Linked DNA regions of Homo sapiens. The protein of the gene in region 1 interacts with the protein of each later gene in a pairwise test. Each region holds a gene or a part of one and is shown on either strand. Other genes may lie near its edges. The genes, in order: RAPGEF5 and PLAC9.

Region 1 (3,911 bases):
AATAAACAGTCAAATAAATAGTCAAAAAGTATGGGTTTCCAACACTGGAAAAACTGACAATCAAACTTCCTTCAATAAAAACTGGCTATGCAGTTACGAAATGTGTTTGGAAAGTCCCAAAAAGAAATAATACAGTATTAGAATCAAAGAGGGTTAATAAAGCATACATTATCTGAGGTAACCACATTCAGAGTAATTAAAAAATAAAACTAAATAGGTATATTGACAAGGTATACGACACCCTCCCAGGCAGCAAGAAACATGAGTATGAACGCAAATAAATACTATAGATCTATTTATACAGAAACCCTCAGCAATTCTTGTCGCAGACTGCCTGGCAGCCCTCATGTCTTCAGTATTCTGTGCCATGAAAAAGTAACCGTCAAGGATAATAGAAACATAATTTGACCTACTTTTCCCTGGATTCCTGCAAAGTCTATAACTCCAGTTCTTGTTTATTCCGACACCACATCTTGGGGACACATTTCCTCACTTACTTTGCAGGCAATCCTAAATGCCACACATGTTAAGGTCACTTGTGGGCAATTCCTAAACTCTCTGGGTCACCGACTTTAAGAATGTCCCATCACACACAGAGAATCCTCAGAACATCTTCTGAGATGGACCTGGGATGGACCATTTTCCACCTGAGATGGAAAATGCCTAGGAAAAGAGAGATGCAGCCTCGAGAAGCTGAAGACCGACATCAGTTCAGACCCTTCCCTACCCAAAGGAGGGCGCATGAAAACAAGTGGTTATCCCTCACTCTCAAGTTTACACAAACCCATCTCTGAAAGAGCTAGAAGTCTCCCAGCAAGGTCTTGTTTTAAGTCAGACAAGACTGCATTTTAAAAATTACAGCCAAACGGGAAAGAAAAACCACATTGATGCAGCTTCTCATTAAAGACCACTTAATAATAAATTTTTAAAAGATGAGTAGAACCCACCAAAGGTGCCGCCAAACCCTGGTGAGCAGGGAAATCTGAGTAAGTCAGCTCTGTGTCCTGAGGCCCTGGCGGGGCCTCCTAGGTGGCTTCTTAAAGATCCCAGGAGACAATCAGCAGACCTTCCTGCTTCTCTTAAAAATACAAAACATGCCTGACCTGCTCAGGTCATTAGATGCACTTAGAACTCAATGAGGGACACTCCTTCACCAGGAAATCGTATCTGAACACACCATCAGGAAGTCAATATTGAAGGTTCTTGGGGGCGTGCACCCTCCTGCTCAAGAGGGTGTCCAGGAGTATTAAGTGCTGGAGACACCGGAACCCAGGAACTGGAAGCTCACCCAAGAGCTTCCGACTCCTGGGTCTGCCCCTCGGCGGTGGAGACCACCAAAACCAGTCTCGATGCCCAGAGCTTGCAACAGCACCTCCAAAACAAGCACACACGTCGCATGCGTCCTGCAAACAGGGATGCCGCTCGTGGGGCCTGAAGCTTGCGGTTGGGACAGGGCTGGCTGGCTGTTGGACGCTGGACACCTGCAGCTTCCCCTCCGAGAAGAGGCAAACAGCTCGTCTTCAGCCGATGCCCGGTCCCGCAGCCTGAATCTGGGGGCCCTGGGGTTAAGTCAGGTGCAGCCTGGTGGGGGGGAGGTGTGGGGGCGGGGGAAGCCGTCGCTCAGGGGGTGGCACCTCAAAACCCGCCGTCCCGGGCCCCTCTTCAGCCGAGTCCGGCAGAAGGGCGTCCCTTCCGCCACCTCCCCAACTTCCAGACGCCCCCCTCAGCGGCCCGGGGGGTGGGCGCGGGCTCCACGTGCGCGCCGCCCGTGCCCACTCGGACAGGGCCGGGCCACTCACCCGGCCCCCAGCGGCGCTCCGCTTCCTCCGCAGCGTGAGCCCGCTCCGCAGCAGCGCGGGCAGGTCCCTCAGCCGCGGCCGCAGCGACGCCGGCGGCTGCTCGCGCTCGGGCTCCCGGGCGCTGGGGCTGCGGCGCAGGGGGCCGTCTGCCGCCACCACCGCCGCCGCGGCGGCCAGGGCCGGGCTCTCGCACGGCGGCTGCATCTTGACGGAGCCCACGGCCATCCTCATGCCCTGACGGCGCTGCGGCGCCGGGGGCTCCTCTCCACCGCGCTCGCCTCCGCGCGCCGTCCGCGCCTTCGCCAGGAAGCGAGAGGGCGCGACTGCGGCTCGGGCGCGGGGCGCGCTGCCAGCCGCTGCCCATTGGCGCGCGCCGCGGCCCCCGCGAGGCTCAGCCCCGCGCGCCTCCCCTCCCCTCCTCTCTCCTCCCCTCCCCGCCCAGGTGCGCGGGCCCCGCCCCGCCCCGCCCTTTCGCCTGCGAAAGCTGCCTGGGACCTGTCCCCCTCGGATCTCCCACTCGGGACCCGGGAGGAAGAGGGCACCTTGGGCACCGGCTCATCCACAGGTGCAGAATTCCCAGAATCTCCGGCAAACCCGCTCTTCTGTCCTGTCCCTGTCCCCCTACCCCTTAGGCTGAAAAGTCCTGCTTCACTTCTTCGAATAGCCAGGGGTTGACTTGGACTTCAACCAAGTGTGCTGGAGAGTCGTCCGCCCTCCCGCGCGTTTTGCACAGCCTGGCCCCTCATCGTAATCTTTACTCCTGGGAACTGTTTTGGCCAAGGAACTTCAAAATAGACACGCTACAAGGCAAACACCATGAGGCAAAATTGCTTTGCGCCGACCCTTCTTGGCACACGCATCCTTAAAGGACGAAGGGAGAAAACTTTTGTTGGTTATGATAGGTGTTGAGCAGAGTAGCTGCAAGTCTGGTGACCTGAAGGTGAATCTCTGTTAGCATGTCAGAACCTGACCTTCCCTGAAAGCCCGCTGCTGTGATGAATGTGCTTGGTGAACTGTAAAGGCCTGCCGTGGTGTGAATCATTGTTTACACCCTTCCAGGAGGCAGGAATTCTGGATCATTGAGAGTGAAACTATTCCAGCAGTGCCTTAAACGCCAGGGAGTGTGAATGTTCACATCTCAGCTCAATCTGTCTTCAACAAGGGCCAGCCAGGGTGTTGACTTCTCATCAGTGGGGCGCTGGGATCCCCATCTTTGTCTAAGACTTACAAAAGTTGAATAAGCTTATTCACATTTTTAAAAAATGACAAGAATCGTAGGAGGTCAGGGTCCAGAGTTGGTTTACCATTGTGCCCTCAGCCACTCACATGGTAGGTGCTTGGCAAATATGTATAAAAACATGCCATGTAACAAAAAAGGAGGAACGAACTGTGACCTCTGCCCTTAAGGAAGGTAAGACTTAACCTAGGAGTAGACAAACATCCAGAAAAACAAAGATATTGCACTTGTACTCTTGCTAATTGCCAAGTAAGTGTAGGTAAGACCACTTCAGGCCACAGGAGAGAGAAATGCTTCTGGCCTGGGATGGGCAAAGCTAAATCCACGAAAGGAAGGAAGTTTAAACTGCACCTTAAGGGTGAGTGGGGAAGATTCAACCAGGCAGAAGGAGGGTAGGTGTCCTTCAAGTAAGGAAGAAAGACATGAGGCCGGGCGCGGTGGCTCACGCCTGTAATCCCAGCACGTTGGGAGGCTGAGGCGGGCGGATCACGAGGTCAGGAAATCGAGACCATCCTGGCTAACAAGGTGAAACCCCGTCTCTACTAAAAATACAAAAATTAGCCGGTCGTGGTGGTGGGCGCCTGTAGTTCCAGCTACTCGGGAGGCTGAGGCAGGAGAATGGCGTGAACCCGGCAGGCGGAGCTTGCAGTGAGCCAAGATTGCGCCACTGCGCGACAGAGTGAGACTCCGTCTCAAAAAAGAAAAAAAAAAAGAGAGAAAGACATGAGAAAAACACAAAGGTGGTATCACACAGAACTCACTGGGCACTGAAAATATGTCATGCTAGTGAAGGGAAAGATGACATAATGAAGAAGTAAGAGAAGATACCAGAATGGATGCTAGTAACACACTGCAGAAGGCCTTAAACCCTGTCA
Region 2 (3,811 bases), on another chromosome or scaffold:
TAGTCTCAGCTACTTGGGAGACTGAGGTGGGAGGATTGCTTGAGCCTGGGAGGTGGAAGTTGCAGTGAGCCGAGACTGCACCACGGCACTCCAGCCTGGTAGACAGACAGAGACCCTGCCTCAAAAAAAATAAAATGTATTTATTAACTCACTAAATCACATGATTTAACATCAGGCCTAATAACAACTGAAATTTTGACATAAGGAAGGATAAAAATTATATGTTGAGATATTCATAACTAGAAGATGAAATTATCTGGATTTCTATTGATGACAAAGTTATAGTACTGTTAATACCACGGCTCGCTGTTTGTATTTATGATGAATGAGAATGCTCAATTTCAGTTAAAGGCTTGTGACAATAAAGATGTAAACTTTTCCCCACACAAGTTAGGAATCGTGGCTATATAACAAAACAGTGACTGAATTTCCACCTTCCCATCCAGTAATGATGTTGAAATATCCGGGTGGGGGTAAGCAAGGCCTTAGGGGAGGCAGGGTCCACTGGGGGCTGGGCAGCCCGGCAGCCTAGATGGGAGGGTGATGTTGGACGAGGTGGCCACAGGGCAGGATCGGCCCGGATGTCCTCACATTCCAAAGCAAGCTTGCATCTGCCCATAAAAACACCATCCTAGAAGGTGGTCCTGAACTCGCATGTCCTTCCAAACCACCCTGTTACCTCCTCCATGACATCTAGACGGCGTTGCACAGCCATGTGTCTGTCACACGCTGTGCTCTGAGCTGAGTCTCCTCGCGGAGGGCTGAAGGGTTCGGCAGCTGTGGGAAAACAAGTCTTGTCACTGTGGGACCCTTAGTTTTCCATAATGCCAGAGACTCCTGTAAACACTGGGCTCAAATGAGGTCAGTCCTCAAAGCAAACTCAGGAGCAAGCGGAGGACGGCCCAGGTGGGGGTCAGTGTGCGAGTGTCAGCCATCTCAATCCCACCAGTCTCTACAGCCACAGTCACCTACAGACCCAGATGAACTTCCTCAAGGAGGTGAAGCCCAGGGAGGAAGGGAGGATGGGCTTCAGCCAGGCAGAATGGCACCTGCAACAATGGAGAGGTCTGAAAGAGCAGGGCTCACTGTGCAAAACCTGCAGGGAGCCCGCGGTGGCTGGAGATACAGGGTGGGCGGGAGAGAGAGACTGGAGAGGGAAGTCCTGGAAATGAAGCCAAGGGGGCAGAGCTTTAACCCAGGGGCTTTAATAAACCAGTTCTGATGCTTGTTTGTTTTTTTGTGTGTTTGTTTGTTTGTTTTGAGATGGAGTCTCGCTCTGTCGCCCAGGCTGGAGTGCAATGGTGCGATCTCAGCTCACTCCAACCTCCGCCTCCTGGGTTCAAGCGATTCTCCTGCCTCAGCCTCCTGAGTAGCTGGGATTACAAGCACCTGCCACCACGCCCTGCTAATTTTTGTATTTTTAGCAGAGACAGGGTTTCACCATGTTGGTCAGCCTGGTCTCAAACTCCTGACCTCAGGTGATCCACCCGCCTCAGCCTTCCAAAGTGCTGGGATTACAGGTGTAAGCCACCAAGCCAGGCCAAGGGGGGTTATTTTAACAGAAAAGTCACAGAGCCAAACATGAATTTTTTAAATATAGGGAATAGATTGGAGGGAGATGCCTTTGAAGGCAGGAGGTTACTGCAGCAATCAGGATAAGAGGGGTGAAGGAGAAGTGATGAGCAGAGGCAGGAGCTGTAGGAATAGTGAGGAAGAAAATGAAAGGAGATATTTCAGTAGCAGCGTTGACACTGGGAACCCGTTAGTAACAGCTGGCATGTGATGAGTGCTTACCATGCACCATGTAGGGTGCTAACTTAACCTCTCCAACAACCTGTTGTTATGCCCAATCTACACGTAGGAAAACTGATGCACAGAAGGGTGAAAGGATGTGTCCAAAGTCACTACTCATAAGCAGAGGACTCATGAGGCCAAGAAGAGGGCCAATAAATTGGGAGAAATGGGGGCTGAAGAGGCTGGAGGTCTTAGGAATCACAGGAGGAACAAGAGGTAAAGAATATTGCAATTTTAGCCAGGCATGGTGGCTCACACCTGTAATCCCAGCACTTTGGGAGGGCGAGGTAGGCGCACGAGGTCAGGAGATTGAGACCATCCTGGCTAACATGGTGAAACCCCTCTCAACTCTTGATTCACCATTGTTCTCCTTGAGTTAGCTCTTCCAGGCACCATCAACCCTCAGAGCAGAAGTCTCAGAGCCCTGATGCCGAGCTTGGGTTTCAGAGTTGGTAACCCTGAGATGCCTGTGGGGCATCAGGGTTGGCTGGAACCTTGGAGAACGCTGACACTCAGGAAGGAGGGTGCTGCCCCAGAAGTCAAGAGAAGCCAAGAGCTTTACAGATTCTGCAGAGGATGAAAAGCGTCAGCAGGGCCGAAAGCAGCGGAGAGGTCTAGCAAGATAAGGACTGGAAAGAGAGCACAGAAAGGCCCTGCTAAATTTCACCCCAGCACTTTTAGGAGTGGTGGAAAAGCAGAGTTTGGATTACCATGAGATGAGGAGGGAAGGTGAGGTTGGGGGTGGAAACTTGGATTCTGGAAAATTTCACGAAGCTTGGCTGTGAAGGAAGGGAGATTGGATCGCAAGGTCTAGAGGAGTATTTATGGTTGTCATTTTTTTTTTTAAAGCATTGGAAAACACAATCATGCTTACAGCCTGAGGGACAGGAGGAAGACAGGAGAACCCAAGGATGAACTTCCTGAACTGATGGGAGGCCCTGGATCCAGAGGGGGTGGGACCACATCTCGAAGGAAGACAGAGGGAATGCAGCAAAAATGGGCAAAGGCAAACCATCTAACTAGAGGGCCAAAAAGTGGAGTGAGCTCCCACCTGATGGCCTCTATTTACTCTGTGCAGTAAGATGGAGATCACGTAGGGAGGAGAGCTAGATGTTAAAATTACAAGAATTCTATGAGTAGGTTGCTAAACACAGACATTAAAATAGTGACCATGGTGTCTGGAAATGGTAGCTCGTGCCTGTAATCCTAGCACTTTGGGAGGCCGAGTGGGAGGGTCGCTTGAGGCCAGGAGTTCAAGACCAGCCTGATCAACATAGTGAGACCCCATTTCTAAAAAGAAAAAAAATTTTAAGTTAAAAAAAAAATGGTGGCCATGATGAGAACATTTACACCACGGAAATCAACGACCCCCCTCCCCACTTTTTTTTGAGAGCCAGTCCATCAGTGCACCACTAGGTAAGGGACTTGAATAAAGAGAGGGCTTCAAAAGGGGATGTGCAGAATGAGGGATGCAGTGTAGGAGGGCTATGCAGAATGAGCCGGCATCAACAAGGAATCCTGGAAGCACGAGTCCTCCCCCAGCAGTGCTCCACAGTCTGGGTGCAGGGCAGCAAAGACAGATGGCTGGATGGAGCTGAAACCTAGGAGTCTGCAGGATGGATGTGGTGGAGGCAAGGGGCCAAGGAACTGAGATTTGGCCAGAGGTTTAGGAGAGGAGGCCTGGAATCCAGCTGGGATGAGGAAGGAAATGAGGCCAAGAAGAGGGCCAATGAATTGGGAGAAATGGGGGCTGAAGAGACTGGAGGTCTTAGGAATCACAGGAGGAACAAGAGGTAAAGAATGTTGCAATTTTAGCCAGGCGCGGTGGCTCACGCCTGTAATCCCAGCACTTTGGGAGGCCGAGGCGGGCAGATCATGAGGTCAGGAGATCGAGACCATCCTGGCTAACACGGTGAAACCCCGTCTCTACTAAAAATACAAAAAAATTAGCCGGGCGTGGCGGTGGGCACCTGTAGTCCCAGCTACTAGGGAGGCTGAGGCAGGAGAATGGCGTGAA

Evidence for each region.
Region 2: the proteins of RAPGEF5 (region 1) and PLAC9 interact in a two-hybrid assay, tested with the Homo sapiens proteins (one large-scale study listed by BioGRID and IntAct).

The regions. Positions count from the first base shown.
Region 1 is NC_000007.14:22,355,031-22,358,941, forward strand, and holds the start of RAPGEF5 (rap guanine nucleotide exchange factor 5), read right to left. Parts: upstream 2,125-3,911; 5' UTR 2,031-2,124; coding exon 1,800-2,030; intron 1-1,799. UniProt on the Homo sapiens protein: Guanine nucleotide exchange factor (GEF) for RAP1A, RAP2A and MRAS/M-Ras-GTP. Its association with MRAS inhibits Rap1 activation.
Region 2 is NC_000010.11:80,139,048-80,142,858, reverse strand, and holds part of PLAC9 (placenta-specific protein 9 isoform 1 precursor), read right to left. Parts: intron 778-3,811; coding exon 680-777; intron 1-679.